Regions from separate parts of the Homo sapiens genome. Here region 1 is linked to region 2. Evidence: fine-mapped expression QTL. A gene starts in region 2. The other region holds a variant in brackets. All regions are shown on one strand. Distances are between the middles of the regions.

Region 1 (11,863 bases), 49 kb before region 2:
CAAAGTGTCTACTGGCAGGCAATGTGAAAAACTCAGCTAGTGAGTCTGTAAAGAAGAAAAAGGCAAAGTTTAGCAGGCATTACTCCTTTTGCTTTCAAAAATATAGGCATCCTACAGGACTCAGAGGGACAACAATTATCAGGCACAAAGTTCTTGCATCTCACATCACAGAGTGTTCAGAGCACACAGTGGTGCTTATGAGTTGTGCTGATTTGGACTTATTATTCACCTCTCTTTACTTTATTTGCACAAATTATAAACCTTTCTTTAGCTTCTTCCAATGAATATAAGTAATGAAAGTCCTATTCCAAAAGGCTGTTATGAGGGTTAAGCAAGATAATGCAGGTAAGGTTCCAGCACACAGTAAAATGCTCATTAAATTTGGCTATTATTAAGGCAGTCCAAGCAGCTGTGCAGAAATTCAGTTCTACATGGACTCAGGCAAGTTACTGACTCCTTTCAGGAGCCTGCTCTCAAGTCTTGAGAGTTTTCCCAATAGCTCCTTGGCCTTTCAAAGAAAATGGTGGGGAAAGAGTGGTGTCATTAAGTGGAAACAATATAGGAAGGTGACAGCTACCCTGAACCTGACTCACAGGTTCTGACAGAAAGAGGGTGGGTATCCAGTTCCAGGACTTTCTAGTCTCACCAGTATTCAAAGCATTTAATGGAAATACAAATTAGAGTTCCCTGAATAAAGGAGAGCTTGGTGCCAATCAGGAGCAGACTTCTTTTAATCATTATGTTATTTACCAATGCAAGGTCACGGTGGGAAGTGCCTTCAAACGATAGTAAAAAGTAGCAATAGCTAAAATGTAGTGAGCTCTCACTGTTCAGTCTCTGAGCTAAGCACTTAATGTACATTTTCATATTTGATGTTCTCAGCAACCTAATGATGTAGGTACTATTTTTATATCAATTTTCCAGACAAGATAATAGATCCTTAGGTCAAGGAAGTAGCCTGAGGCCACACACCAGGTAAATGTGTTGGTGCCTTGATCTGATTCCAGGAATTTCCATTCTAGAGTCAGTACTTTTAATAACTTTGCTCTGCTGCCTACTCAACCCAAACCCACTACCCTGCTGAGATAATTCCGTTTAAGTGGCTTCTAAGAAGCTGTGTACATGTGATGTGTAAGCAGCTTTTTAATGACCAGAGAAACAGCCGAAATGTTATCTTTTAGCTCAAGATGTGCACCTGTGTTTCACCAACACTTTATCCACATTATACTCATTTCCAACCATCAGAAACTCTTGTGTTACTTGAGTAGTGCCAACTGGATAATTCACTTGTCAAAAAATAATCCTGACTGCATATTCCCTATTTGTGAGTCTTCCCAATCTCTAACTAGGGTTAATTCCTCAGTACTACAATCGCTGTTTTCAGCTACACAGGTAATAATCCTACCAGGCAGTGCTCCTTAAAAGAAGAGGCGGTGATGCCGTTGCCCACCCCAAACTCATATGGATGTTAGGTGGATATATTATGTAATAAGGTAATTAGATCATTATACTGAAAGCAATCAAAACCAACCCTAGAATTTCTATCTCCTGAAACTAGGGGTCTTGTGACTAAATTGATTGGCTATTTGCTTTGGTATTGGAAAAGTCTTGCCTCTCGATAGATTTCTTTTTTTAAATTCTGAAAAGAGTCCATTTTTTATCTCACATATGTAACACTTCTGCCTCACATATATAAAGAATTTAAAAGAACAAAATCTTACATTTTAATTTGAAAATAAAGTATAAGATACTTAAGAAAATTTAAAACAAAAATGTTGATGAAAATAGTGATCACAACCAAGTAGCTATAATATTGCCTCTTTCAGCCCCTATCTTGTGCAGCCCAGCAATCTTCTTAGTTGATGTTACTTGTCATCTAGATTTGCTAAAGTTGATATACAGCATGTCTGAATTGGGATGGAGGCAAGTGATGATAGTCTTACTTACATAGTGTTTTCTATGTGGCAGATACCATTTTCATTTAATCTTTATTACAGCCCTGTGGCAATGGCAAAGAAAGTGAGGCTATGAGGCAAAGGGACATGCAGCAACTCCCCGAGGTCACATAGCTTGCTAGAGGCAAAGCTGGGAATTAAGCCCGGAACATGTGGCTGCGAACTCTGAGCTCCTCATCACAACTCTCTGACTCAGTGTGACTCTCAAAATATCAGCTTCAAGCCCAAGGCCACTCCTTGGAAATATGGGGCCCTAGGTAAGAAAGTTCATGCTCTGGACTTCCAGTCAGGAAAGATTTCAAGAGCTACCAAGATTAAGCATGACTGGAAAGATACAAACTGACTGGCCTAACCAGAGCCTGCCAGAACAAGCCCGCCTCACAGAACTGCCTTCCCCCAAGAAAACATTAGGTCAGGAGGACAGCCCAGAGGTGCTGATGGGTGCACACCCCGCCTTACTGGCCTGCAGTGTTCATGTTTCAAGACAGAAGAGTCTGTGATGTATCCGAGACCCTCTCCCTGCCAGGGTAGTCCCTAGAGAATGTGCAGTGTTACATCAAGTGACTGATGGAGACTGAGGGTAATCATAGCTTCCCGTTTTCAAAAAATATATATATATATATATACGTGTATATATATATATACGTGTATATATATATGTATATATATATACGTGTATATATATATGTATATATACACGTATATATGTATATATATACGTATATATATGTGTATATATATATATACGTGTATATATATATACACGTATATATATATATATATACGTGTGTGTGTATATATATATATATATTCTAAAGTTCCTTATTGGTAGCTATTCTTGATTTTCACTTCCTTCAGGCTTGCCTAAAATATCTTTTGTGTTTTTTTCTTTTTTTTTTTTATTTTGAGATGGAGTCTGGCTCTGTCGCCCAGGCTGGAGTGCAGTGGTTCGATCTCGGCTCACTGCAAGCACTGCGTCCTGGATTCACGTCATTCTCCTGCCTCAGCCTCCCTAGTACCTGGGACTACAGGCGCCCACCACCTTGCCTAGCTAATTTTTTATGTTTTTGGTAGAGATGGGGTTTCACCATGTTAGCCAGGATGGTCTCGATCTCCTGACCTCATGATCCACCCACCTTGGCCTCACAAAGTGCAGGATTACAGGCGTGAGCCACCGCACCTGGCCAAAATATCTTTACATACTTCATTTTCATAAGAATTCTAGTATTACACATTGATTTTGACTTTTCAAACTGGGAAATGTGTTGACCATTAAAGTCAACTGGTTAACCCATGAAAACCAGCCAAACAAGTTACAGTGGATACTGTGCACGTACGCCTTGCTTTGACTCAGACACAGGGCATCGCTGAAGTTTAAGATGTGATGAGCTGGCCCCTAAATCCCTGATATTCCTCAACCGTGGTCGCTGGGACTGATGTGTACCAATAAGCTTGGGAAGAATAGGGGCCTTTGTGCTATGAAAACAGACTAATCTCTACGCCTACTCTATGCCAAATAATGTCAGTTCATGAGCTGACACTGCCAACACCACTTGTTGCTTTCACAGCAAACTGGAAAATCATTGCTAAACTGCCTGAAGTATAATAATAAAAAAAATTAGAAAGTGGCCGGAAGTGGTGGCTCACGTCTGTAATCCCAGCCCTTTCTGAGGCTGAGGCCAGCGGATCTCTGAGGTCAGGAGTTCGAGTCCAGCCTGGCCAACGTGATGAAACCCCATCTCTACTAAAAATACAAAAAAAATTAGCTAGACGTGGTGGTGGGAGCCTATAATCCCAGCTACTTGGGAGGCTGAGGCAGGAGAATAGCTTGAACCCAGAGGGCAGAGGTTGCAGTGAGCTGAGATCGTGCCATTGCCCTCCCGCCTCGGTGACACGAGCGAAACTCCATCTCCAAAAAAAAAAAAAAAGAAAAAGAAAAAGACAAAATTAATTAATGCCAAATCAAGAATCTTGTCTTATGACTTTGCCAAGTAACTTTGAGTGAAACTATGTGTACAGAGATTATTTTCAATGTAAACTTTCTTGAACATCTGTGAGTGAGAAAACATGTTAGCTTCTTGGAATATAAAGTAAGACACAGTCACCTCCAGTAAAACACTGGTAACACAGTGTTGGTGGAAGCAACAAATGTTCACAATATTTAATTAAAGGGGAGCAAAACTGTCTTCTTTCCTCTCTGATGGAGACTTAATTTGATGTTAACTTAGAGTGCTGATTTATAAATAAACAGTTTACTCTCTCAGCCTTAGAATTTGGACAAAGAGATGGAGATCATACTGTTCTCAACTGCTAGGCAAAAACTTTTTTAAAGTTTTTGATGGTGAAAAAATTATAATAGAAATACTCATTGGAAGAAAAAGAATGTTGATGATGCAAGGTAAAGAAATTCTCATGTAAAAACAAAAACAAACAAACAAAAAACAGCTGAGGGGTAACAAGCCTGCTGCTCCTTCCCCAAGGGCCGTTGTCAAATTGCCTATTTCAGAGACAGTCTGAACAGGGAGGCAAGACATTTATCAATGGTGTGATAGAGGCTGACAGTTGTCAAACCAATATTATCCTACCGTTTTTTTGCCTCCTAAAAGGATTCCAATTTGACCATGTGCTCTTTAGTGACAATGTGAATTCTGCCCCTCAGGAATGAATTATGACTGATTTAAGTCCATAGTGATAATCCTACTCTCTTTTGTCAGTGATTGGTTTAGGGGTCGGCCTGTGGCCTATTTCTGGCTAGGTGGATGAGAGGGAAATCTATTAGAGGTTCCTGGGAAGGACTCTTTTCCCTGATACATATGTTCCCTTTCTACTAAGGACTTTGCCCTGTGAAGGTGTGGTGGTTGGAGTTACCACAGCCATCTTATACCCATGAGGAATGACATTGTTAATGTGATAGGATCAGAAAAGCCTCGATAACATGGTCAAGTTTCTGAGCCGCTCTTAGAACCAACCATCTCATGACTTCCTTTTATGTGAAATCATAATAAACAATTATTTACGCAAATAAGCAAAAAAAATACCATGTCTCGAGCTCAAAGGAGCAAAGAGGAAGAGCTGAGATTTCAAACCCAGATACATCTGACTCAAAAGCCATTCTCTGTGGGCGGCAAGCCACCCAGGTGCCGAGGCAAGAGACCGAGGGCACGAGCTGTTCCAGTATAATAAAATACATAAAACAACAAGAGTTATACTACATCTAGATCATAGACATGATTATACATGAATATCATTAATTATTAGTTTGTAGCAATTACTCTTTATTCCAATATTATAATAATCCTCGCTCTACAATCATAACCTAGGAAAAGCCAGGCCATACAGAGATAGGAGCTGAGGAGACATGGTGAGAAGTGACCAGAAGACAAGAGTGTGAGCCCTCTGTCAAGTCCAGACAGGGCCACTAGAGGGCTCCTTGGTCTAGCGGTAATGCCAGCATCTGGGAAGACGCCTGTTGCCAAGCAGACCATGGTCTAGTGGTAGCGTCAGTGCCAAGGAAAAACACCCGCTACTTAGCAGACCAGGAAAGGGAGTCTCCCTTTCCCTGGGAGAATTTAGAGAAGACTCTACTTCTCCACCTCTTGTGGAGGGCCTGACATCGTCAGGCCCACCCACAGTTATCCAGAGGCCTAACTGTCTCCCTGTGATGCTGTGCTTCAGTGGTCATGCTCCTAGTCCGCTTTCATGTTCCATCCTGTACACCTGGCTCTGCCTTTTAGATAGCAGTAGCAAAATCAGTGAAAGTACTAAAAGTCTCTGATATGCAGAAATAATGGCGTAAGCTGTCTCCTCTCTCCGCCTCAGCTGCCAAACAGGGAAGGGCCCCCTGTCCAGTGGACACGTGACCCACGTGACCTTACCTATCATTGGAGATGGCTCACACTCCTTACCCTACCCCTATGTCTTGTATCCAATAAATATCAGTGCAGCCTGGCATTCAGGGCCACTACCGGACTCCACGTCTTGGTGGTAGTGGTCCCCCAGGCCCAGCTGTCTCCAATTTTATCTCTTTGTCTTGTGTCTTTATTTCTACAGTCTCTCATCTCTGCACACAGGGAGAAAAGCCCGCTGACCCTGTGAGGCTGGTCCCTACATCTGGCGCTCCGACATGGGGCTCTCCCTCGCTGTGTGAAGTTGCACCTTGAGTGCGGGACTCAGCAGAGGATTTCGACGACAGATTCCTGAGGATTGCGGTCAATAAGCTTGGTGGTAAGCTTGAGCACTCAGCATTCCGGGGACACCATGGGACAGGCCAGTACTAGGTACTCGGCTTATTTAAACTTTATAAAAACCCTCCTGTATTATCTCAACCCTGTCCCTGTTCAGCCCTGCTGTAGGGCTGTCAACCTTCTGCTTGTTCTACCCAGTAATGAGGCCCTCAACCCTATCCCTCCACAGCCTAGTTTTCTCATGCCTGTTTCTTTTCCTCCTAATCAGACTCAGTTAGAGCCGCAGGCTCCCTTGAAGCCTGGTTCCTTTCCTCCTAATCGGACTCGGCTAGAGTCACAGGCTCTCTTGAAGCCTGGTTCTTTTCCTCCTAATCAGACTCGGCTAGAGTCACGGACTCCCCTGGAGTCACAGGATACCTTGAGGCCTGGTTCCTTTTCTACAAACCGGGTTCCCTTGAAGCCTCAGGCTCCCTTGAAGCCTGGTCCACAGTTGCCGGTGGCAGCCTGGATTTCAGGCCCATGAAAGACCTGCTCAGCAAGTAATCTCGTCTACCCAAGTTTGCCACTCACAAGCAACAAGTTACATACATTCCTCAAAATGGCACTCCTCTTATCAGGGCTATAGCACAGGCAAGAGAATATGGGGATCCCAAAGCCTGGCAATTTCCTGTAATTTTACAGCCTCCCTGCCGTCCTGCGGCACAAAATCAGCTACAGCCCGCTGATGTTGCTCAGCAAGCAGCTGATCTCGCGGCAAATTCTCGCTCTGTGTTAATATCTTGTTTTTCTGCAGTACAAAAAGCAGTTGCAGCAGCCGGTTTAGTTATTGCCCCAGAAAAAATCCAAACTTCTTCTCCTTATCACTATTTAGGAATGCAGCTAGAAGACAAGGTTATTAAGCGCCCCCCCCCCACCAAAAAAAATCATTGTTCCCCTCACCCGATTACAAGTCCAACAGGCTTTTGCAACCTGCATCGCTTGGCAAGTACATTTGGCAACTTTCCCGGGTATAATTGATAATCACTATCCTAATGTAAAATTATTTCAGTTCCTTCCTCACTTCTTGGATTTT[A/G]CCTAACATTACTAGAAACACCCCATTGGCTGAAGCTGTCACTGTTTTTACTGATGCTTCCTGTAATGGCCGAGCAGCATATACAGGACCAAGAGAACGTGTTCTTAATACAGGAGCTATTTCAGCACAATGAGCTGAGCTACTTGCTGTTATGGCTGTCCTTGAAGATTTCCCTGAACCAGTTAACATTCTTTCTGACTTGGCGTATGTAGCACATGTTGCTCGCAATATTGAAACTGCCTTAATCAAATTTCTGCCTAATGATAACCTATTCTTTCTTTTTCAAAGGTTTTAGTCTGTGCTCAAAGCAAGGTCTTCTCCTTTCTACATTACTCGCATTCAGGCCCACACACCCCTCCCCAAACCCCTCTTGGCAGCAAATGCCAGAGCTGATATATTAGTTGCTCCCATTTTTACAAATGCACGAAATTTTCATACTTTAACTCAAGTCAACGCTGCGAGACTCCAAAAAAAGTTCCCCCTTACATGGAAACAAGCTAAAACCATGTGCGTCACTGTCCTACTTGTCAAGTGTTAATTTTACAGCCACTTTCTTCAGGAGTTAACCCTAGAGGACTTTCACAGAATGCTCTCTGGCAAACGAACGTGACTCATTATCCTGCTTTTGGCAAGCTTTTTTTATACATGTAACTATTGACACCTTTTCTCATTTTATCTGGGCCACTTGTCACACAGGGGAAAGTACAGCTCATGTTAAACAACATATGCTTTCATATTTCTCGGTGATGGGCTGTCCCGAGAAACTGAAAACTGACAACGGCCCCGGATACACTAGTGCTGCTTTTAAAAGGTTCACTCAGACATGGGCAATTACTCACACAGCTGGCATCCCCTATAACTCTCAAGGACAGGCCTTGGTGGAACGAGCCAATAAAACACTCAAAGATCAACTTCGAAAACAGGACACTAAAACAGAGGGATGCTGCCACTCCTCATGCTCAGTTAAATCTGGCTCCTTTTACACTAAATTTCTTAAACCTAGCAAGAAATCAACCTTTTACAGTGGCAGAACAACATTTCACTGGAAGTAAATTTGATCCACAAAAAGGAATGCGGGTATGGTGGAAGGATGCAACTAACAAATAGGAATTAGGCACAGTCGTAACATGGGGTAGGGGTTTTGCTTGTGTTTCCCCAGGAAAAGGACTACAGCCCATGTGGGTCTCCCCCACCGACAACTGAAATTGCACCATAACTCCAAAGATGAAACGTTCCCAGAAACAAAAGGCAAAGACCCCTCAAAAACCGAGGAGGAAATTTCGCCTCCTGACACATAAACTTCATGACCTCGACATTGAGACAAAATCTCGCTGTGTGACCTACAACACCACTCGTTCAACTCCACCAACATGGGGTCAAATAAAGGTCTTATCCCATCACACAGAAAATTTATTAAAAGAAAAAGGAATCCCAAAAACGACCAGTAATATAATTCTGGCTGTCTTTATGGTAGTCAGTGCAGCAGTAAGTATACCACCAGTTGGGGCAACTCAAAATTATACCCACTGGGCATATGTTCCTTTTCCCCCTTTAATTTGGTCTGTCTCCTGGATGGACTCCTCAGTAGAAGTTTACACTAATAATAGTGCATTCATGCCGGTCCCTAATGATGATAGGTTTCCAGCTCAACCGGAAGAAGAAGGTATGCACTTTAATCTGTCATTTGGCTATAAATACCCACCACTGTGTATCACCTGGCTGTTTAGCTTATTCTTACCAGAATTGGATGTGGACCGTACCATCCTTAACAAATGATTCTTATCAAGTACATAATGTGTTCAGTAGCAATTCTTTTCAACTTCTCACTGTTAAACTTAAGCCTCTTGAGGAATTGAGGGCTCCTGTCACTACTAACAGCAATAAAACAAAAGGACTGCCAGACTGCCCAAAGAAACCTACAAAGGGAACTTTTCTACTGAATTCAATTTTATGGAATGATTGTAATGCTCCCAAGGCCATTGTGCTGCAAAGTCTAGCCATGGGAACTGTTATTGATTGGGCTCCAAAAGAGCATTATTCGCAGGATTGCTCCAGCAAAAATACCTCATGCTCGGAGTATAATTATTTGTTAGATTATATAAAGGATGGATGGCAGTCATACAGGTTGAGACAATAGGTGTCTCCTTACCCATTTAAATGGATGGACGCAGGCATTGTTCCTCCTAGACCAAAAATGATTCATCCCATTGTTACCCCAGAACATCCTGAATTATGGAAATTAGCTGCAGCTATAACAGGAATAAGGATATGGAACACTACTTATCAACTCCTTCACACTAATACCAAAACACCCACATTCAACATCACCTTGATATCTAAACAGGTAATACCCATCAGGAGTTGTGTCAAAACCACTCACCTGCTGTTAGTTAGAAATATAATTATCATTCCCAGTACACAAACTATAGAATGTGATAATTGTAAGCTGTTCACGTGCATTGATGCTACTTTTAATCCCACAACAAGTATTCTCTTGGTAAGTGCTAGGGAGGGGGTATGGATACCAGTTTCTTTACATCATCCGTGGGAGTCTTCCCCCTCTATATACATAGTCAATGAAGTTCTTAAAGGTATCCTCAAAAGAACAAAGAGATTTATTTTTACTCTTATTGCAGTCATTGCAGGTCTAATTGCGGTTACTGCAACAGTGGCAACTGCTGGAGTTATGATTCACAATTCCGTTCAAACCACTCAATGTGTTGAAGCATGGCAAAAAAACTCCTCCAGACTTTGGAATTCTAAGGCTCAAATTGATCAAAAATTAGCTAATCAAATTAATGATCTCTGCCAACGTGTGATATGATTGGGAAATAGAGTTATGAATTTGGAACACCGTATGCAATTACAGTGTGATTGGAATACTTCTGATTACTGCATAATGCCTTATGCTTATAATAAAGATCAGCATAGCTGGGAAAAGTTCTCAAGACATTTAAAAGCCTGGGATGATAACTTAACCTTGGATATTTCAAAACTTAAAGAACAAATTTTTGAGGCTTCACAGGCTCATTTATCCACTGTTCCTGGCTCAGACATTTTTGAAGGAATAACTAAAGAATTATCTGATCTTAATCCCTTTAAATGGATCAAACCCCTTGGAGAATCATTGTTGTCACTGGCATTATTAATACTGGTATGCTTATGTTGTCTCTTTTAGTCTGCAGATGCCTCCAAGGAGTCCGGAAACAAGTCCAAAGTCAACGACAAGCAATGATGGTGATGGCGATCCTAGTTAATAAAAAGGGGGCAGATGTGGGTGGCAAGCCAATCAGGTGCCAAGGCAAGAGACCGAGGGCACGAGCTGTTCCAATATAATAAAATATATAAAACAACAAGAGTTATACTAGATCTAGATCATAGACATGATTATACATGAATATCATTAATCATTAGTTTGTAGCAATTACGCTTTATTCCAATATTATAATAATCCTCGCTCTACAATCATAACCTAGGAAAAGCCAGGCCATACAGAGATAGGAGCTGAGGAGACATGGTGAGAAGTGACCAGAAGACAAGAGTGTGAGCCCTCTGTCAAGTCCAGACAGGGCCACTAGAGGGCTCCTTGGTCTAGCGGTAACGCCAGCATCTGGGAAGACGCCTGTTGCCAAGTGGACCATGGTCTAGTGGTAGCGTCAGTGCCAAGGAAAAACACCCGCTACTTAGCAGACCAGGAAAGGGAGTCTCCCTTTCCCTGGGGGAGTTTAGAGAAGACTCTACTTCTCCACCTCTTGAGGAGGGCCTGACATCAGTCAGGCCCACCCACAGTTATCCGGAGGCCTGTCTCCCTGTGATGCTGTGCTTCAGTGGTCATGCTCCTAGTCTGCTGTCATGTTCCATCCTGTGCACCTGGCTCTGCCTTTTAGATAGCAGTAGCAAAATTGGTTAAAGTACTAAAAGTCTCTGATATGCAGAAATAATGGTGTAAGCTGTCTCCTCTCTCCGCCTCAGCTGCCAAACAGGGAAGGGCCCCCTGTCCAGTGGACACGTGACCCACGTGACCTTACCTATCATTGGAGATGGCTCACACTCCTTACCCTACCCCTATGTCTTGTATCCAATAAATATCAGCACAGCCTGGCATTTGGGGCCACTACCGGTCTCCATGTCTTGGTGGTAGTGGTGCCCTGGGCCCAGCTGCCTTTTCTTTTATCTCTTTGTCTTGTGTCTTTATTTCTACAATCTCTCATCTCCACACATGGGGAGAAAAACCCACCGACCCTGTGGGGCTGGTCCCTACAATTCTCTTGGTCTTCTGTTCCAGCTCTAATGAATTAAAAAACTAAGAAAGTAAGAAATGGATATTTAATATCCTGGCTATGTTCTTTGAAGGGTGTCTCTGCAGACCACTAAAGTGAATATTTCTATAACATACACTGGGCAAGTCCCAGATTTGTCCCGGAGTTTCTGCTTCCTATGCCCTAAGTCAAGGTCAGATGTAGAGCAGCAAGTAATATTCTGACCAGTGAAGTTTAGCCAAATGATCCAAACAGACAGTTTGGTTTAAAGCTGCTTTAGGGATTCAAATCCAAATATCAGAAGGATCAACAATTCTTGATCGTTTTGAATCTAAACAAACACTACCAGTATCCTTCTTGATTTTTGGTTGTGCAAAATGATTGTCTTTAAAA
Region 2 (11,499 bases):
ATTTAAATTTATATTACAGAGTTATAATATTCAAAACAGTGTGGTACTAGCATGGAAACAGAAACACATAGATCAGCATATGGAACCCAGAAATAAATCCAAACATATGAAGTCAGCTAATTTTTGATAAGGGCACCAAGAGAACACAATGGGGAAAGAATAGTCTCTTCAATTAATGGCGCTGGGAAAACTGGGTTTCCACACACACACACACACAAAATGAAATTGGACCCTTATCTTACACCATACACAAAAATCAACTCAAAATGGATAAAACACCTAAATGTAAGACCTGAAACCATAACACTTTTAGAAGAAAACAGGGGGAAATCTCCTTGTCATTGGCCTTGGCAATGAGTTTTTGTGCGTCACACCAAAATCCCGGGCTACAAAAGCAAAAATAAATAAATGGAATTGTATTAAACAAAGTGAAGGAAACAAATCAACAAACTGAAAAGGAAACCTATGGATTGAGAAAAAATGTTTGTCAACTATATGTTTGATAACAGATTAATATTATAAAGAACTCTTATAATTAATAGCTGAAAAACAACCCAATTAAAAAAATGGGTCAGAGACCTGAATAGACATTTCTCCAAATAAGACATAAAAATGGCCAACAGGTATATGAAAAGTTGCTCACTGTCACTAATCATCAGGGAAATGCAAATTAAAACCGCTATGAGATATTACCTTACACTCATAAGGACGCCTATTACCAAAAAGACAAGAGATGGCAAATGTTGGTAAGGGTGTCAAGAAAAGGAAAGCCTACTACACTGTTGATAGGAATACAGATTAGTACTGCCATTATGAAAAGCAGAATGGGGATTCTTAAAGAAATTAAAAATAGAATTACCATATGACCCAGCAATTCCCCTTCTGGGTATATAACCAAATAAGATGAAATCACCACTCCATAAAGATATCTGTACTCCCACGTTCAAGGCAGAATTATTCATTATAGCCAAGATATAGAAACAATCTAATTCCTAATTGTCCATCAATACATGAATGGACAGAAAAAATGTTATATGTATACTTGTGTGTGTATGAATATTATTCAGCCTGAAAAAAGTATATCCTGACACTTTTATCCACATGGAAGTACCTGGAGGACCTTATGCTAAGTGAAATAAGCCAGACACAGATGGAAAAATTTGCATAATCTCACGATCTCACTTATATATAGAATCTAAAAAGGAAAAAAGTAAGGTCAAAATACAAAGAGAATAAAACAGTAGTTGCCAGGGACAGGAAGGGCAGGGCAGAGGGAACGGGAAGATGTAGGTCAAAGAATACAAAGTAGTAGATATGTATGATGAATGGGTCTAGAGATCTAATGAACAACATGAGGACCATAGTTAATAAAATTTTATTATATTTGGAATTTTTGTTAAATAAGTAGATTTTAGCTGCTCTTATCACCAAAAAAGTCACTGTGTAGGTTTGTTAACCATAGTAACTATTTTACTATCCGTATGCTTCCCAACATCATGTTGGTAAACCTCAAATATACACAATAAAATGTAATTTTTGAAAACAGAAATCAAATATGCAATAAGAAAATCAACAAAGTTTAAAAAATCAAAATTGATTAAGTGCCATATTTTGAAAAACAGCAATCACTGTTACATTTCACTGGATTTCTTTATGTTTTATATACAATAACCAATTTTAAAAGGCAGTAACTTTGGGGGTGGGAAAATTATTACTGCCCATTTCATTTTTTTGAAAATGATTCTTCACATTAAAAAAAAAATTATTTCTCTTTGTACCTGTTAAAGCCTATCAAAACATCATTACAATCTGGGTTTCTTTCTGTCACTGAATTTTGAAAGTATGTATGCTTTTAAATTTCTTCTCTTGAGGTTGAAGATTGTCAGCTCCTTGAGAGAGGAGATTTTGTCTTATTTGTCTTTGTACCATCTCTGCATCTGCTTGGAAAAGATTAATTTTTCAAGGAATGACTAAACTAGATTATTTCCACTATCCATTAGGTTATTGAAAAACAGTCTATATTGAAGATAAGAAACTGTTTCTTAGAGCTTCTCAGACAAGAAACTTTCTTAGAGAAGAAAAAGCTTTGGAAATAAAAATTAATTTCATTAATTAATGAAAATAATCTTCATTGTTCAAGTTGCGAAAATGGTTGTGTTGCACTTGTCCCCATCATCATGACAAATCATGGCCTTACTCAAAAGTCACTGTTGAATCTTATGATACATAACTATGGAAAGGTGAGGCTTTTTAAAAATTCATCAACTATCTAAAAGTTTTAAAATGATTTGTACATCAATTACAGCACTGTTTTAATTAAAGTTCTGTGTATATTTTTAAAGGAAATTTCTCCTCCCTTATTTTTCTCAACAAAGTTTTTTTTTTTTAATTAAATTTCTTGTCTGTTTTCACAGAAAAGCAGTATATGTTCCTCAATTGAAACAGGAAGTGACGGTTTATTCTTCAAGTTCAAGTTAAATGTTGGGATTTTCCAAAAATCTTAATCTGTTACGGTTGCTGTAATTTATTAAAATCTTTATGGCAAAAATTTCCAGTTGTAAAATATATTTATTTTAAGCTTTACACATCGGAAATGTAATTAACACATTGCCTCCTTGTGAAGGCCTGGCTTCCTCTTTAAGGCAATTTTCCAGCTAGGTTTTTACTGGGAGTCCCCTCATTGTTTGGAACTACACTGCCTCTGCTTCCTTTTTTCCTTCCCTAGCACATATTCTTTAAGTACAGCCTCAGATATGAAATGAAGTGTAAGGCAAAAAATATGTATGCCCTCAGTATTTGATAAAAGTGTCATTTCATATCAAGAAAGAGTGTGATCTACATTTATTTACTCAACGCTTATTTATTGTTACTATTTTTTCTTGACCCAGTGTTTCTTGACCCTCAGGGGACCACACATTGTTCTAGACACTAAGCATAGAGGAGTGAACCTACAAGTCAAGGTTCCTGATCTCTTAGCGTTTATATTTTAATGACAGGAGACATAAAATAAAGAGGTAACCCCAAACAATAAAACATAATTAGCTAATGATAATTGCCACAAATACAATAAAACAAGGTGCTATAATAGAGAAAGATCAGAAGTCTTCTTCGAATACAGTCGTCATAGGAAGCTTTTCTAAGGAGGTAATATTTGAGGAAAAAAACATAGTAATGAAAAGAAACTACCCATGACCAGAGCAAAGCTTTCTTGAGTGAATCAATAATAAATACAAACGCAGTGAGACAGGAAGAAGTTTAGTCTGTTCCAGAAATAAAAATTAACCAGGGTAGCAAGTTTAGAGTTAGTACCAAGGAAGCAGAAAATCAAAAAGGTCGAAGAAGCAGGGATGAGCCAGTCATGTGGGGCATTGTAGGGCATGGTAAGCAGTTCAGATTTAGATTTTATTCCAGATGTGCGGTGCAACCACTAGAAAGCCTTTAAACCAAGAAAATCAGAAGTGGTATTGTTGTCTGGATATTGCTTATAAAAGATTACGCTAGCCACAGGTGGAGAATGGACTGTAGTAGGATAAGAGGGGAGGCATAAAGCCCAGTTCGGAGGTCATTTGTGGTATCCAAGCAAGAGATGATGCTGGCCTGATGTAAGGTGGTAGCCATGGAGATACAACATCAGGACTTGCTCATTTACTGGGCGTGGAAAGAGGGAAAGAAAGAAATCAAGAGTGCTAGTTAAACATTTGATCTGAGCAACCATGGGCCTGCCAGTCACTGTGCTAAGCTTAGTGGTTAAAATAGAGGATAAGACATTATGAATTTATGAAGGTCCTTGCCTTCATAAATTTTATAATCTATAGTTATTTAATAAACATGACTCAGTTAACAAACTAATAACTTAGAAAAATTAAGTTAGATCTAAATTTCATGGTGTATTAACATAATAAAGTCTAGATGGGCTAAAATGTTCAATTTAATAAATAAATAATATCTAAATCTTAGAAAAACTAGAAGAAGCAATATATGTGCATTTTTACATTCTTTAAGGATGGGAAAGCTTTTATAAAACTGATGTAACTGATAAAGAAAAATAATAGATTCGACCATTTACATTTTTAAACTTTTATATGTCAAAAATACCATAGACAAGACTGCAAGGTAAACAAGTCACCTTGAAAATATAGTCACAGCATATATGATGAAGAGTTGATATGTTTAATATATAAAGAGAATTTATAAATCAATAAGAAAAAAGATGAGCAAAGAGTCCAATAAACAATAAAGCAAAAGTGCAAAGTCTAAAGAGCCCAAACTTACAAGTACGATAATATATATATTTAAAATAAGATATGGATTTTTTTATGTTTCAAATTAATAAATGTTTAAAAGAAGTATAATAACCCATGTTAGCTGCCCTGGGAGTATAAAACTGACAAAGATTTTTTAAGCAGGGAAATTCTTCAAAATGCACATTGCCTTACATCTGGTAACTTCAATTTTTGAAATGTATCTAAAAGGTGTAGTCATGCTTGTGTGGAATCATATGTAATCATTCACTGCAGTGTTGTTTATAACAGTATAACTTTATCATAATAATTAAATAAGTAACGGTATTTTCATTTGGTGCAATACAGAGCAGCTAGTTAAAATTACATTGCAGGAAAAAAAGTGACTGATTTATAGTAAATTGTTCATACTACGTTTGATGTGATGAAAGCAGGCTATAAACCAACAAACCAAATGTAATAGCATTTTGATAAACAGCCACAGGGAAAATAAGTCAATAAAGACATTCAACAAATTGTTTATGATGATTATACTTGAGAGATGGAATTATAGGTGCTTTTTGTCCTCTACATTTCTGTGTTTTTCAGATTTTCCACATTGCATATGTGCAATTATATACTTTTTATATTATCAAATAAAAATTACATATTTACAAACAGATAAAACACTAAAAAACGAAGTCACTAAGCCTCTAACTTTACTTTTCTTTAGAAAACCAGTTGGAAAGCAGTCATCAGAGTAAAAGTTTCCACAGCATCTGCCATTTAACAGTTTCTAAGCCTTTTTGGAGTCCTTTTGAAATTGGAGATATTGGCAAAAAACAAAGCCCCCAAATCCAATGCTTGCAGGTAAAAGATGCAAAAGAATGTTGCCCTGATGCTGACAATAAGCAAATGACCCACTTCAAGCACAGACAATGGAGGTGGAGCATGGATTTGAGCAAGATATCCTGGAACCGAGAGCTGTAACTACTCTAGGTCCTGCTAGTCATCATTCAAAGGTCAGTCCATACCAGCAGCCACATACCAGAGAGTTATGGAGCCAACATGATGATCGAATTAATATCTGCAAGTAATACTAAGTCACATCTGTCCTTACATAAGATTGTAAAATCTTTGATTGTGATCCAATAAAACCATTTGCTCAAATAATGATAAATCTGATAGTTCCTGGTCTCCGCACACCACAGATTAAATAGATAAACTGCCTAATATTTTTTCTTTTTTTTTTTTGAATCAGGCTGGAGTGCAGTGGTGCAATCTTGGCTCTCTGCAGCCTCGACTTCCCAGGCTCAAGTGATCCTCCCACCTCAGCCTCCCGAGTAGCTGGGACTATAGGCATGCCCCACAATGCCGGGCTAATTTTTTTTTTTTTTTTTGCAGAGACAGGGTTTTGCCATGTTGTCCAGGCTGGTCTTGAACTCCTGGGCTCAAGTGATCCACCAGCCTTGGTCTCCCAAAGTGCTGAGATTACAGGCGTGAGTCACTGCACCTGGCCTGCCTCACCTTTTGAACATATAGGATCTTACTTAAAGTGCTATGACAAACATGCAACCTGAACATCTAGAGTCATTCTGTTTGTCTGGCGTTTGAACACGAAAGATACTAGAAATTAACTCTGCCTGCTGAACTTTTTGCAGGAATCAGATTGAATTTCTTTTGAGGGCTCTCAGGTTTACACTTGTAAAATAACCTATTATGTTTAAAAATTATGAATAGTTGCTTTACATAGGAAACCAGTAAAATAACAATGATCCTTAAAAATCTGTGTGTGTGTGTGTGTGTGTGTGTGTGTAAATGTACTTCATATTTCCACAGCATCTGTCATTTAACAGTTTCTAAGCCTTTTTGGTGTCCTTTTGAAATTGGAGATATTGGATAAAACAAAGCCCCCAAATCCAATTCAGTAGATAATGACTAAATTATTATTTATCTCCTCTGTTTTGTTTCATTATGTTCATTTTCAAACTTTGATGTCTACCAGTTTCTTCTGTGGAGCTTATAAAAAATATAAATACCCGAAGTGTATGCATGGCCTACTAAATCAGAGTCTCACAGTTGATGGTACCTGGGTTTAGCAGAATACATAGGTGGTCCTGGTGCACCCTGAAGCGCGAAACGCTGCTCTGGGTGAAAAAAAGTGCTAGCAGGGAAATGTGTTAGCAAAATAACAAGGAAAAGAAAGTTAACAAATCTCAAATTGGAAAAGAAAAATCTTAAAAAGAAAGACGTGAATAATGGCGTTCAGTCTTGGTTGGTGTCATTTCTCACAGGCCAATTACCTACAGTCTGGGTGGACTAGAGAATAGAGATTAACATCAGTCAAATCCCGTGGTTAAAGCGTTAACTAGAATGTCCATTCATTTCTCAAGAAGTGTGGCAGAGAGCAAAGGAGTGTACCTATCAGCTGTTCCTAAGAAAGTAAACACTCCCAACATGCACTGAGGCACAGGGAGTGGCTCAGGTTTCTTGACACTTCCCTGCTGTGGCGAAAAGGAGAAATAATTAACAGCTCCTGGGGCTCCAGGATCGCTGATCGCGTCGGGGGCACTGCAAGCGCCCAGCTGAGCCATGCTCTGGGAGGAGACAGGCGCCGCCCCTGCGCCCGCGCGGGCCTCGGACCTCCCCTACAGGTGAGTGACTCGCGGAGTCCCAGCCCGGCAGAGACAGGGCACTGGTTTCCCTCTACCAGAGTTCCTGACCCAGCCGAGAACAAACCGCGAAGCAAGTTCAGCCGAACAACGATGGTGAAAAGGGTCCTCCTGCTCACAGTGTGAATAACAGGTAAAAAATGGGGATGGGGAAAAAAACTTTCTAATCCACTCCCTGGGGTCATGTTGAGGGCAAGTTATTAGAAAGCAGAATCCATAGGCAACAAAGTTAAGTGTGTGTGTGTCATAGCAGCCTGAATCGCACACATGCCTTTTCCTTTTGATTTTCTCAGAATATGCTTTCCTAACCAAGGTAAGCTTGTAGGGTGGGAGGGAGAGAGGGGAAAGAAGGGAGGGAAAGGGTGCAGAGAAGGGCTTGGAGGTAAATGTGACCATAGGACCCCTCCTCCCTTTAGTTCAATGAGCCCTTCACCTGTAATTGTGCCTGGCAAAAATCGTGCCTTACAAAGATACTAGACTTCTGGATGGCATACTCCTTCCTCTGAGTATCCTTATGGTTAGAATATTGTGTTGAATCATCGCACTGGAAAGAACTTAATTGAGGGTTCAGCTCAACTTTTATTTGTTTCTGCAAAGTGACAGAAAGCATGCCCCCCACCAAAAAAAAAATGAATTTTCAATATAAGCGCTCACCAAACAATGAAATAATAAACATAAATAATTAAATGGGAGTGCATGAGTTAAGGATATGAATTCTGAAGCAGAAGAGTGGTAGGTTCAAAGCTCGGCTTTGCCACTTATTAGTTTGCCCCCTCTCAAGTTTCTTAACCTAAGCCCCAAACGTTTGTCTGTAAAACAAGCATCATCAAAGGATCTGCCACATAAGGCTTTCTTTGATGGGAACTGAACAGTCAGCAAGTGTTCTGTAAGTGATACCTACTGTTAGCATTAAGAATAAGCTGCTCTGCCAAAGGGGCCGTTATCAGGGAGGGCAAGCTGAACTAGGGAGACCAGACAGTGTGTATTAGGATGCTGGAATTGAACTGGTTCCCGGAGACTGGATCCAGGACAGGCAAGCAGGTGACAGGTGTGCTAGGATCATCTCTCTGGGTAGCAACGAAATGACCTGGCTTCTTTCCATTTTTCAGATAGAGTATGTGGTGGCAAATTCAGACATATTTGCTACTCAATCAGTTTTCTTTTGAAAAATTCACATTTACATTAATCTGTTATTCCTAAAAAGAAAATAGAATTTTAGAGTAAGAGAGTTACACACAATCTCATATTGTGGAATTCATGCCATTTGGGTTTTATAAAGGAGACTGCTTTTGAATAACTTTCATCAATTTAGACCATATAATCCATGTCTTTATATTTCAGCACATATTGAATTGTTTGTATTGAAGTGCTGTTTTTAATTTGTGTTGATGGACAAGAGACATGAAGGAATAATACTTGTATTTTGTCAGTCTCTACCTCTTAAGCTTAAATTACAGGAAAGTGGCTTTATTTTATGAAGTTTCACTTAAAGGGCACTTTTGTCAATGTTGTTAGTTATTAATGTTGCTAATTTTCTTGAGGGGACCAACTTAGTGTCTATGACTAGTAATTTCCATTGACTTCATTTTTATCTTGTTATTTTATTAAATAAAGCAGTCAAAGAGTTTGCAGTATACTCTAACTTAATATCATTGGTGTTTTAATGGATTCTTTTTTCAAATTGCAGAGTTGAAATTCTTCAGTGTGCTTACAATTAGATATTGACTGGAGAATTGTGGATAGAATTCTAAACCCAACCTAACTGAAGTTTACTATGTTATTTCCCTCTGGGGTCTGATTGTGTTTAGTACAGTTTAGCTAAAAACTTATAAAGGAATCAAATTGAATTAGAATAAGTTAGGGTTCCAATATTCATTAAAGATTTTTCAAAGAGGAAATATGCTTTTATGCTGAATTTCCATATTGTTATACATCCTTAAACAAAGTTATTTGCCTTTATATTTATTGATAGACATATGTCTAAATAAAGAATAGTAGCCCCAATTGAGATAAATTTATTTAACCATATTTGAAATTGATTTGAGATTAATCTACTTAACCGTAACTGGGTGGAAGTCTTTCTAGTTAAAATCTGTTTAGATAGATAGATAGATAGATAACAACTTTATATCTATACATTAGAATATTGTGTTGAATTTACATTTATTCTACTATTTCTCACGTGTATAACATTTTATTATAAACTATTAAATGTTGTGGTCAATCAGAGAGAGAGAGAAAGAGAGAAAAGAGTGACACAGAGAGACCCAGCAATGATTACGAAAAAATTAACTTTTCCAGTTATATTCAAAATAGTGTAACATGTATGTAACAAGTCTTTTAAGCATGTAATTAAAAGTTCTATACCTGATTCTTGTTTTAATTTCCTAAAATAAGAAGGATCCTTTACTTTTAACTGAGATAGAAACCCAATGCTGACAGTCCATTTGCTTATATAGATTCATTGATTGCAATGTAGGTGGGGAATTCACGGTTACTAGAGTTACATGGGCTTCATATAAAAGCTTAGATTTTTAAAATATTCAAGTATAGGCCATTTGAAAACAAAACCTCTGAGAAAGGAATTCTGAATATTTTCCTTTCACATTACAGTTAGAGAGTTATTCTGTTGCAAAAATTAATTTGTATGTTTAAAATGATAAATTATAGTGATTTCATCACTTTCATAACATAATCTCAACAACCAAACTTAACTAATACCACTGCTTTCAGGAGTAGAACATGAAGTGTCTCCTATTTAAGTAATAAGGATGTTAACTTAAAGGAAAACTTCATCATCACCTAGAGCCTAGTAAAGGAGCTTAAGAGGAGAGAGTGTCGATTCTTTTGCAGCAAATATACAAACAGGAAAAATGAGTCGTGATCTTTGTGACGTCAGCCTAAGAATTTCTACTGGGAAGCTCAGGTGAAGCAGAAAATTTTTGAGTTCCACCACACCAGTAATTCCAGAAGATGCTGTCGGCAGACTGAGCAGCGCCTCCCAGACCCAGTGGTGGCAAGATGCCTTAAGTGCCTTAATACAAATTTGCTTCTCTGACCGTTTCTGCTTTCTTTATCTCCCTGAGGGCACCTTGAGCAGAATAAAATGCATGGCATTAGTACCATGTAAATATGCAATAGAACAGTAAAGTTTTGGCATTTCCAATTAGATTCCACTTGAACTGAGGGCAGTGGCATGCTCACATAGAAGTGTGTTTGATTCATATTCTGCTTAGTCCTCTCTTAGATTCAATGATTATAATACATTATTTCTATCTCAAAACCAACAATCACTGACTGCAACCAATATTACTTAATTAAGTGATAGTTTGTATATATGCCAACTCTTGACCTTTACTGTCTCTGCAAATAAAGCACATTTTAAGAAAAAGTATGGAGCCAAATGTTTCCCAGAAACCATCACTCTGTTAACTCTTTTCCTTTTTTGAGAGAACTAGATACTGGATGGAATTATAGATGCTTTGTCTCATTTTCTTGAAGTGATGTAATTGCATATAACTCTGCTCTTCTCTACTCCAAGGTTCCAGGTCATAACTTTGAGAAAACAGTTTCGTTTTGGAGATGAATACATAATTGTAACTTTCTATTGCTTCTTCAAGCTGAAACAATATTTTATTAAAAAGACTCTCCGTGTGTACAGCCCTTAACATACTCTTATCTCATAATTGAAATACACACTTGCTATTCTAGTGTGATACTTTCTGTTCTTTTTTTAAGTAGCTTTTACTGGGGACGTGGGTGAGAGAGATGTAACATATATTCCTTGTCTATGATTTAGACAGTACATACAAAATAAAAAAAGAAATAATTATCACACATAATCTCTTAGCTCTTAATTTTACCATTAATATTATAATATACCTCTCTGTATGTTGGATGTATTCAATATTTTGTGTATGTTTTATCTATATGCCTGCATATATTCACTCACTTTAGAAGACACAAAAATGAAATAGCAATAATTCTGTCCTAAAGGACCTAGTAATCAAATTAAGTAAAATAAAATATGGTTAGAGAGAGAAAGCAGTAAGTAATTAGAAAGCTACAGAAAATTTCCTGTGAAATTTCAGAAGCAAGAGAAATTGTCTTTGGCTGGGAAATACAGGGAAGTTAGCACCTGTATATATATGTATAGATAGATAGATAGATAGATAGATAGATAGATAGATAGATAGATATAGATATATGTATATATATTAGTTCTTTGTAAAATCATTAGCATTATGACACTTTGTGCACCTTGTGGCCTCAGAAATAAGAGGCTATAGATATAGATACAGGCTATACTTTCTGTGCCTAGCACGGTAGCAGGTGCAGAGAAGGAACTCGTGAAATATTTGTTGAATTTACAAACGAGTGAACCCAATTTTCCACTTTTAGATATGTAACCATTTAATTAACTCATGGTTGGATAACAGGAAGTTACTTTAAATGACTGACCCATTTGATTTAATTTGTACTAGAATTCACTTCCTGTCCTCTGGCCTCATTCTGGTCACAAGGCAACTGGTAAGTCCAGGCAAGCCCACCTCTAGGCAGGAATGCAGAGCAGGGGGAGGTGAACCACGTTCCAGCATTGCTGGAAC

Evidence for each region. PIP is the estimated chance that this variant, and not a neighbour inherited with it, causes the effect.
Region 1: its variant is fine-mapped to the expression of RASSF6 in nasal epithelium (TOPMed, PIP 0.91).

What each region holds. Positions count from the first base shown.
Region 1 is chr4:73,665,066-73,676,928 of GRCh38, reverse strand. No RefSeq gene overlaps it. Among named protein-coding and RNA genes, the nearest start is that of UMLILO, 39 kb to the left of the region's middle. The variant A/G (reference allele first, on the strand shown) is at 7,212.
Region 2 is chr4:73,615,814-73,627,312 of GRCh38, reverse strand. RASSF6 (Ras association domain family member 6) reads left to right here and starts at 6,877. Exons shown (of 11, transcript NM_177532.5): 1 at 6,877-7,025. RefSeq lists enhancers at 6,305-6,853, 6,854-7,403.